Regions from separate parts of the Homo sapiens genome. Here region 1 is linked to region 2. The links come from fine-mapping of genetic effects on gene expression. A gene starts in region 2. The other region holds a variant in brackets. All regions are shown on one strand. Distances are from middle to middle. Region 1 has its middle 8.7 kb from the start of ADGRG7. Region 2 holds the start of TFG (trafficking from ER to golgi regulator).

Evidence for each region. PIP is the estimated chance that this variant, and not a neighbour inherited with it, causes the effect.
Region 1: its variant is the best candidate, but not a certain one, in a credible set for the expression of TFG in platelets (CEDAR, PIP 0.85).

The regions. Positions count from the first base shown.
Region 1 is chr3:100,598,282-100,603,520 of GRCh38, reverse strand. No RefSeq gene overlaps it. Among named protein-coding and RNA genes, the nearest start is that of ADGRG7, 8.7 kb to the left of the region's middle. RefSeq lists an enhancer at 133-402. The variant G/A (reference allele first, on the strand shown) is at 3,121.
Region 2 is chr3:100,707,391-100,712,629 of GRCh38, reverse strand. TFG (trafficking from ER to golgi regulator) reads right to left here and starts at 3,136. Exons shown (of 8, transcript NM_006070.6): 1 at 2,909-3,136. RefSeq lists enhancers at 1,786-2,676, 2,677-3,568 and a silencer at 2,810-3,039.

The DNA.
Region 1 (5,239 bases), 110 kb after region 2:
AACTTCCTACTCTCCCCAGAGCCAGGTGTTCCAGATAGGATCTTCGGGGCTGATTGGTTCCTGGAGGCATCATTTTGTGGAAAGTAACTCATTTAACACTAGTGGAAGTTTATTGTCCATGAAACTAAAATATGTGCCCATGGGAGATGCTGGACTCTGATTCATGTAACCCTGAATGAAGCTCTCTGTGCTCTAGAAGATGAAAGAAAAGGAACTCCCGAAAGTCTTTTTTAGTTTCAAATTTACTTCTTCATTTTGCTCTAGAGAACATCAGTTCCTCTGTTTATCTCTGCAGATTCGTTTCCTTTATCTTTCTTTTTCGCTTTCTCTTTTATTTCTTCCATTTTCCATCTCCAAAGTCTGAGCTGGTTGGCAGAGGTGTATAGTAAAGATTAAAAGAGCAGAGAAACAGTCATGGTTAAGTTGAGAGGCACAGTGTAGGAAATAGTTTGATTTTCTTCTTTTCGTTCTAGAAAGCCCAATTCAAGTGAAAGGCAAACCCCAAATTTGTAGTAACTAAGCAAGAGAATCATCTGAGAAATAGTCCCGTATAAACACTAGTCCTAAAAATAGTAGTAGGAAGTCATAAGCTGATCTGAGCAAGATGGGTTGAAATTTGCAATGTCCTGTGTGAAACAGCACTATCCTTTACATGTTGACAAGATAATATTCTGGATCCTAATTCTTTCCATTTAGTAAAGTATAATTATTTAATGAAATGATCAGTGTAAGTTATTTATTGCTACGCAACAGGTCACCTCAAAACTTAGGGATTTAAGATACAATCACCATTCATTTGCTTATGACCATGCAATTTGGGCAGGACTCTGCAGAGATAGCTTTGTTCCTCATGTTTATTTAGCTGAGTCATCTGGAAGCTCAGCTGGAGCTGGAGAATCCAAGTTGGCCTTTCTCACCTGTCTGGGTCTTAGCTAGTTGATTAGAAAGGCTAAGTCAGCTGGACCTTTCTTTACCTCATAGTCTTTTCTCCGCTAGGGCCTCTTTCTTCCTGAAGCCTCCTCAACAGAATAACCTTGCTTCTTCACATAGCAGTTGAATTCTAAGACAGCAACAGTGGAAAATAAGACCTCTGGCAGTCTGTTGTACCTGAGCGAGTTAGAGAAAACACCACAATTTGAGATGAATTAAGAGTCCGTTTATTTAGCCGGCGGCCAAGAGACGGCTAATGCTCAAAGTTCTCTTGGCCCCGAAGAAGGGGCTAGATTTTCTTTTATACTTTGGTTTAGAAAGGGGAGGAGCGGTCTAGTTAAAACAATTTTACAGAAGTAAAGTAGGCAAAAAAGTTAAAAGGATAAATGGTTACAGGAAGGTAAACAGTTCCAGGTGCAGGAGCTTTAAGACTATTACAAGATGATAGACGCGGGGCTTGGGGCATTATCAATCGGACGAATTCCTGGGAACTGCGGATATAGCTTGCCACAGTATCTTATCAGTTAATTGCATTCTTGGATGTGCTGGGAGTCAGCTTGCACAAGTTAAGTCCTTGAGGAAGGGGCTGCGAGTGAAAGAGCCAAGATGGAGTCTGTCTGGCTCTCTTAGCTAAAGGAGAGTCAATTCAGGTGGAAACAAGGCTAGGTGATTAAAGGAAAGGGAGAGTCTAAAAACAGCGTTAGTAAAAACAAGGTTGGGCATTACATTCTACAACCAGAACTTGTTCAGTGTCACTTCTACCATATTCTCTTGGTCAGAGAAATCACCCATGATTATTGCAGCACTATTCATGATAGCCATGATATGGAATCAACCTAACTGTCCATCAACAGATGAATGGATGAAGAAAATGTGGTAGATATGCACAATGGAATACTATTGGGCCATAAAAAAAGAATGAAATCAATTAACAGCTGTAGCTGGGGCAGCAGAGGAAGTCAGGCTCCACATGCACTCCCCCAAGAAAGGAGCATAATCCAGTCGCTAAGAAGCAACTGCAGACCTCGCCTCCACTGCATCTTACAGGCCATAGTACTATTAAGAAGTAAAAGGGTGGGAGTTTCTGATCATCATGGCGGACAGGAGACAGGACTAGCTTACAGCTCTGACTTGTACAGACAGAGCAGTGTGCAGAGGCTTGTATTGTGAATTTTAGCTGCAGAACGACTGCAAGAACAAACCAGGAATCCCAAGAGGACCCACAGACCCTCTGAAGGAAGCAGACTACTCCTGCAGGACCCAGGAGACCCCCAAATGCTGTGAGTGCCCCAACTGCCGAAGTGGGAAAAGAAGATTCACTGCTCCCGAACACATACCCCCACTGGGGAAAATAAGGGTCTAGTTTGCAGGAGAAGTTTCTGACCTTGCCTGAAGCTGAGTCAATTTAGAGAGCCAAGCAAAATACAGGGGTAGAGCAAGCAGCGGGAAAGGCCCTGGGAGCTTCCCGGGTCCCCAAGTAGGCCACTCTTGCCTGGCACCACAGGGATCCTTCAAGAGGGCAGCCAGAGGTGTGGGGGGAAATGCCACAAACAGAAGGAAATCTTTAGCTAAACTTTGTAACAATTTGAACCAGGCAAGAAGCCTCCTGGCCAGAACTCGGGGCAGAACAAGAATCCGGCATGCAGACTCCACAAGCAGGGGAAGAACCAAAGTCCTTTTCTTTCCAAGCTGGGAGGCAGGTAGCCTGGGGCAAGTTCTCAAGCCCTGCTTGCCCACTGCCTGGACACAGACTCGGGGCTGTTTGTGGGGGTTCATGGTGGAAGTGAGACCGCCCTTCAGATTGCGTGGGAGCTGGGTGAGGCCTGTGATTGCCAGCTTTCCCCACTTCCCTGACAACCTGCATGACTCAACAGAGGTAGTGATAATCCTCTTAGGTACGCAACTCCAGTGACCTGGGAAGCTCACCCCCATTCCCCACAGCAGCTGAAGCAAGATATGCCCAAGGAGAGTCTGAGCTCAGACATGCCTGGCCCTGCCCCAACCTGATGGGCCTTCCCTGCACACCCTGGTAGCTGAAGACAAAGGGCATATACTCTGGGGAGTTACAAGGCCCCGCCCACCACCAGTTCCTCTCCATACTACCATAGCTTATGCTCTCTGGAAAGCACCACGTGCTGGCAGGAGGCCAACCACCACAAAATAGAGCATTAAACCACCAAAGCCAAGAAC[G/A]CTGACAGAGTCCATTTCATTCCCCTGCCACTTCCACCAGAACAGGGGCGGGTATCCATGGCTGAGTGACCCATAGATGGTTCACATCACAGGACTCTGTGCAGACAACCCCCAGTACCAACCTGGAGCTGGGTAGACTTGCTGGGTGGCTAGACTCAGAAGAGAGATAACAATCACTACAGCTCTGCTCACAGGAAGCCACATCCGTAGGAAAAGGGGGAGAGTACTACATCAAGGGAACACCCCATGGGACAAAAGAATCTGAACAGCCTTCAGCCCTAGACCTTCCCCCTGACAGAGCCTACCCAAATGAGAAGGAACCAGAAAACTAACTCTGGTAATATGACAAAACAAATCTCTTTAATATCCCCCAAAAATCACACTAGCTCACCAACAATGGGTCCAAACCAAGAAGAAATCCCTGATTTATCTGAGAAAGAATTCAAGAGGTTAGTTATTAAGCTAATTAGGGAGGTACCAGAGAAAGGAAAAGCCCAATGAAGGAAATCCAAAAACAAGGTACAAGAAGTGAAGGGAGAAATATTCAAGGAAATAGATAGCATAAAGAAAAACTTCAGGAAACGTTGGACACACTTAGAGAAATGCAAAATGCTCTGGAAAGTCTCAGCAATGCAACTGAACAAGTAGAAGAAAGAAATTCAGGTCTTCAAATTACCCAGTCTAACAAAGACAAAGAAAAAAGAATAAGAAAATACAAAAAAAGACTCCAAGAAGACTGGGATTATGTTAAACGACCAAACCTAAGAAAAATCAGTGTTCCTGAGGAAGAAGAGAAATCTAAAAGTTTGGAAAATATATTTGGGGGAATAATCGAGGAAAACTTCCCTGACCTTGCTGGAGACCTAGACATCCAAATATAAGAAGTACAAAGAACACATGGGAAATTCATTGCAAAAAGATCATCGCCTAGGCACATTGTCATCAGGTTATCTAAAGTTAAGACGAAGGAAAGAATCTTAAGAGCTGTGAGACAGAAACACCAGGTAAACTATAAAGGAAAACCTGTCAGATTAACAGCAGATTTCTCGGTAGAAACCCTACAATCTAGAAGGGCCCTATCTTCACCCTCCACAAACAAAACAATTATCAGCCAAGAATTTCATATCCAGCAAAACTAAGCATCATATATGAAGAAAAAACACAGCCTTTTTCAGATAAACAAATGCCTAGAGAATTTGCCACTACCAAACCACCACTACAAGAACTGCTAAAAGGAGCTCTAAATCTTGAAACAAATCCTGGAAACACATCAAAACAGAACCTCTTTAAAGCATAAATCACACAGGACGTATAAAGCAAAAACACAATTTTAAAAGCAAAAACAAAAAACCAAGGTACACAGGCAACAATGGCATCATTAATGCAATGGTACCTCACACCTCAATACTAACACTGAATGTGAATGGCCTAAATGCTCCACTTAAAAGATACAGAACTGCAGAATGGATAAGAACTCACCAACCAACCACCTGCTGCCTTCAGAAAACTCACCTAACATATAAGGACTCAGATAAACTTAAAGTAAAGGGGTGGGAAAGGGCATTTCATGCAAATGGACACCAAAAGTGAGCAGGGGTATCTATTATATCAGACAAAACAAACTTTAAAGCACAGCAGTTAAAACAGACAAAGAGGGACATTATATAACGGTAAAAGGCCTTGTCCAAAAGGAAAATATCACAATCCTAAACATATTTGCACCTAACACTGGAACTCCCAAATTCATAAAACAACTACTAATAGACCTAGGAAATGAGACAGACAGCAACACAATAATAGTGGAGGACTTCAATACTCCACTGACAGCACTGGACAGGTCATCAAGACAAAAAGTCAACAAAGAAACAATGGATTTAAACTATACCTTGGAACAAATGGACTTCACAGATATATACAGAACATTTCATCCAACAACTGCAGAATACACATTCTATTCAACAGTGCATGGAACTTTCTCCAAGATAAACCATAAGATAGGCCACAAAATGAATCTCAATAAATTTAAGAAAATTGAAATTAAATCAAGCACTCTCTCAGATCCCAGTGCAATAAAACTGGAAATCAACTCCAAAAGGAACCTTCAAAACCATGCAAATAC
Region 2 (5,239 bases):
GTCATTCAACAGCTATTAAATAAAGGGAAAAATAATGGATTAATATCTCTTCTTCTCAAGGCCAAGATGTTCCTGAATGTTATCTATAATCGCTGAACATTTTCCAAGCATAACTCCTTCCTCCTCCTGCCCCAAGAAAATGATCTCTTGAGACTTTTCAAGGTATCCTACAAACTACTACTGGCCACATTCTAGTTTCAACTTCCCGCCTTACTACTAGCAGCTTTCTGCTTCCTCCTCTTAAATCTGTTATTTCATTAACACCACACTTCTCTGCAATTATTCTTTATTCTTTCGGGGTATGTGAAAGCACTCACCTACTCCCCCAACATATCAACCCTTCAAGTACTTCAAAAAAGTTTTCATGAATCCTATTATATGAATATTATATATTAATGCCCTACTATTCTTCATATAAATACGCTAGGTCCTTCCATCTAACTAGTCCTTAAATTAATATCTCTAGACCCCTCACCATGCTCTCAACAGATATTTTATTAATAAATCTTCAATGAAATGGGTCATTAAAACTAAATATAACACTCTAAGGTCAATGCAGAACAGAGTGAACTGCATTCCACTCTAGGGATGCCATGCTTATCTTAATGCAAAATAAGAATACAGTTAGCTTTTTATCTGCCAGTTCTCACAATGGACTTCTCGTGAAGACAGTGATTAACAGAAATCTCCACACAACCAACTCTTCGCCTTCTGCAATGCCTTCTGCAATGCTTTCGGTATTCAGGAACTACTTATTAAATACCTACTATGTGCCAACTCTAAAGTATAATTACTTCACCAAGATGGTAAATATTCCATCTTGCTTGCTCTGGCAGCCTAAGAGTAATAAAGACCTTTCAATAAATCAATGTATTTGTTACCTTCTCCTTCCTACAAGAAGTGTAAACCAGCAATAATGTAAAAGGAACCAGTGCTTAGCTTCAGTGAGCTGGTACTATCTATTCCCAGCAGCACCTAGAAAAGTGCCTGACATATAGAATTTAAAGACTTTGTTTAAATTTTTTAATTATGGGAGAAGAAAGCTGTAATATAGATCAGTTTTTACATCCGACCCCTCACACTGTACCTTCTTTATGTAGCTAGAAGTGACTTCCATCAGACACACTCCTAATTAAGAAAAAAATTCCAGCTTTGAAGATAATTGATGGTATGTCCTTCTGACTGGGGTACGGGTTTGTTGCCCAATTTCAATGGATTTAAAATTTGAGGGCCGGGCACGGTGGCTCACACCTGTAATCCCAGCACTTTGGGAGGCCGAGGCGGGCAGATCACGAGGTCAGGAGTCCAAGACCAGACCGATCAACAGGGTGAAACCCTGTCTCTACTAAAAATACAAAAATGAGCCAGTTGTCGTGGCGCACGCCTGTAATCCCAGATACTCAGGAGACTGAGGCAGGAGAATCGCTTGAACCCGGGAGGCGGAGGTTGCAGTGAGCTGGGGGATCACGCCACTGCACTACAGCCTGGGCGACAGAGCCAGACTCCGTCTCAAAAAAAAAAAAAAATTGAGTCACGTATACTTTCTATCTGCCGTGTTTACCTGCAAATTCACTTTTTGTGTTTCCTATTGACTGTAAACATCTTGTGGCCAGGAACCAGTGCTTCTTTCCTAAAGCTGTCGTTTGCTCTTGCAGTCATCTCCCCAGAGTAAACACAAAAGTATCTCAAAAGTAAGTGTGCAACAAAACTTTCCCTTCAAGGGGAAATCCCAACCCAACATTACTTCACATACAGAATTCTGGTACTCATTTTCTCTTCCAAAGTAGAGACTGGTATTAACTAGTTCCTAGAACTGCCAGTAGGAGCCCTACGACAAGCTCTTCTCCCATCTTGTCCTTGCCCCGCCCCCTCTGAAGTCCAGAAATGACTCGGCTTCTAACTTGTATAATATAACCCTCTACCAGGTACACTTTTCTCAGCACTGGGAATAATCTGACACGCCCAAGGTCATATAAAAAGCCTGCCTCCTGAACCAGGTTCTAGGTTCGGCGGACAAACTTCTGGTTCTACTACCTCTAAGGGTAAGACCCTGCTCAATTTCAGAGGCTGTGGCTTAAGCACCTCCTGAGGGGAGCAGTTTCCTTCAAGAAATACTAAGCCAAGTCAACCTGTAATTATTCTAAAGAATGCCAAGAGGCCTCAAACCCTGCCTCAAAGGCAGTGCAGCAAGACGGTAAAGATTCTCACTACTAGCTATGTGATCTTAAGTCCTCCAAGGCTCACTTTCATCACATTCGAAATGAAAACAACCATATCTGAATTTGGAGGAATCCTTGTGATGATTAAATGAGACAGTGCATCCAAAATACTTACTGTAGTGTCCAGCAAAGCAAACTCTTAAAGTTAGCTAGAATCATCACTATAAACCAGGCTGGGCCTCCAGCCGGCGCTTGATTAAGCGCTGACTTAGCCAAGGAACTAGGCTCCGATTCTATGACCCCAATCAACTTATTCCCGTAGGCGCCACTCCACACCCTTCCGAGCTCCTTCGGGTATTGGGCGCCGGCCGCCCCAAACCTCCCAAAGCCCCTCTCCTCTCAATCCAAACGCTTGGAGGCAGGCTGCACCAAGGCATTAGCTGGCGCACTCCCCTCCCGGAGCCCCCCAGGCGCGCCTCCTGGCCACCGCAGCCAGGGGTTGCCTCTCTCCCCTCCCCCTCCGCGACCTCCCTTCCCCTCCCCCCATGCAAGGCCCCGCCCGCCCTCCCCCCCGGCCTCGTCCTCCCTCCCACCCCCTCCTCCCTCCCACCCCCTCCTCCCTCCAGCCCCTTCCCACAGTGCCTCCGACCCCAGCTGCCGCGCGGTTCGAACGAGGCCCTCCCAGCGCCTCCTAGTCTCCCGGCCTCCTCGGACAGAGCGCCCGCAACCCCCGTCTCCAGTGGCCATACCGGCTTGCGGAGGCCGCGGCCGCCGCCTCTCCGCAGGTCTCCGCTGAATGGGCGGACGCGAGGCCACTGGACTGGGGCGTCGCGGGGAGGCGGTGGTCACGGCCCCCTCGGTTGCCCTTCGCGACCGCCGCACCTCGCTCGCAGGCTCGCGCGGGCCCCGGCCAATCGCGCTGACCCAACAAGCCTAGCGAGAACTTGGGCTCTGTACGTGGCAGGTGGGGGAAGAACAGAGGCGGGAGCAAGAAAAAAAAAAATGTCCTTTCGCCCCTCCTTATTGCGCGTGGACATACCCAGGACGCATGCGCGACGGCGCGAGGCGCAGGGCTGGCTGGGTCCCGGCTGCCTAGGCCGAAGAGTCCCTGCTTTCTCACTGGATGACGGGATTTAGGAAGCGTGAGCTGCCCCGATGCACGCATGCGCGGGGCGTGACCACGCACTTCCGGTTTTCTCGAAAGCGGGTATTTCCGTTTCTCGCCAATGGGCGGGGCGTAGTGCGCTGTTCTAAACTTTTTGAGAGTTGGTTGCAGTAGACGTCTGTCCAACTTTAAGTGGTTTTTGTCGTTATTGTTGACCATTGTAGTAACAGCTGAAAAAGAAAAAACCTTTTCTTCTATAAATCCATTCATTCATTATTGGGAGCCTATGCTTTGCCAAGCCCGGTTCTAGGAATGGGGGTGAATCATTTTGTGAGCAAGGAGTTTCCAATTAAGCAGGGAAGACCTACAGCGTTTATGAGCAAGGAAAATCTGTAACTGTGTAAAGGACAAAAGCTGGGAAATTAAGGCTAAAGATTCCTGAGTGATTTTTAGAGGATAAGGCATTTGAGTGTGTCCTACGTACTCTTCCCTTCTCCCTTACCTGTTCAAATAGAAATACAGTATGAGTAAGTAGGAATTTATAGCCAAGGGGTGGAAGTCGGTCAGTGGATGGAAAATTACTAAGAGGAAATATCAGGGGCAAGGGAGATTCTGGCTAAACCAACACAACAGGATTCTAGACGAAGATAGGCCAGGATAGCAGACATCACCTGGGGGTGGTGGAGGATGAGGAACCCCATCAAGGGTGAGGGATTCTCACTACACTGCCTTAACAAGGTTCTTTGCTGAAACTGAGTTTTACAAGAAGATGCACAGATGGTCCTAGGAGAAGGCCCAGGAGCCCGAAGTTTGGCCAAACGGAGAATGTTTGTCACTTCTAAGGTGGAGACTAAGCTGATAAATAAAGCATTTAGACCCTACCTGGTCTCCAGTTGTTTACCAGTTATAAAAGAAAAACTTAAGCTGAATTAAATTTAAAGGAGTTTAATTGAGCAGTGAACGATTTCACGAATTGGGCAGCCCCCAGAATCACAGCAGATTAAGAGACTCCAGCAGAGCCACGTGGTGGAAGATTTATAGACAAAAAAAGGGAAATGAGGTACAGAAATTGGCAGTGAAGTACAGAAACAGCTGGATTGGTTACAGGTTGGCGTTGGCCTTATTTGAACACTTAGCAGTCTATGAGTGATTGAAGTGTGGCGGCTGGAATTGGCCAAGACTCGCTTATTGTAAGAGACGCATACTTCTAAGTTAGGTTTTCAATCTTGTCTGTTAAGCTAGGTTACAGTTCATCCACAAGGATTCAAGTATAGATGTATGGAGTCCTTCTCAGGCCATATTTAGTTTGCTTTAACACCAGATACTCCTAAAGGACCTGGAGTAAATTCTGGTGTTTCAGGGTGAGAAGCTACGTTCTTTTACAACCATAAGTAGTGTGATCTTTTTCAGTTATAAGTCTCTGAAACTTCTGTTTGAGAGTGAAATAATGTAAGTTTACACTGTTCACTTCTGATTTGTATTTTCCAACAGTTGTATTGACCTTTGAGCAATTGTTTGCAGGGATAAGGGAGTGGAGTACTGCAGAAGAAATGAAAAACAGTTCCTAATTGCTCTCCAAAGAATGTTATTCATTGCTTATTTTTTAAAACTGAATAATACAGATTTGGGGAGATGCACTGCTGTCAGATAATAGTATTATGATGTCATTAAGATGGTTTGGGATGGGGTAAAACCACAACCATATGGCAAAGGTAAAATATTCCCTGAAGGAAGTGAATTATACTACTGTTATAGTAGTATATTTAAACTAAAAAGAGGTCAGATCCTGAGGCAGGAGATAAGGAGGTGAACCTTGGCCTATTATAAGGTGAAAAGAGTATCTGCTGAGGATCCCCAGTGAGGGGGCACTCAAGAGTCCTGCTACTGAGGAGAAATAAGCTGGTCCCTGTTACACTGTGGTCATCTGTACGCTAGGAAGAGAGGCACCCATAAGCTGGCCTTGTGGAAAAGCTGG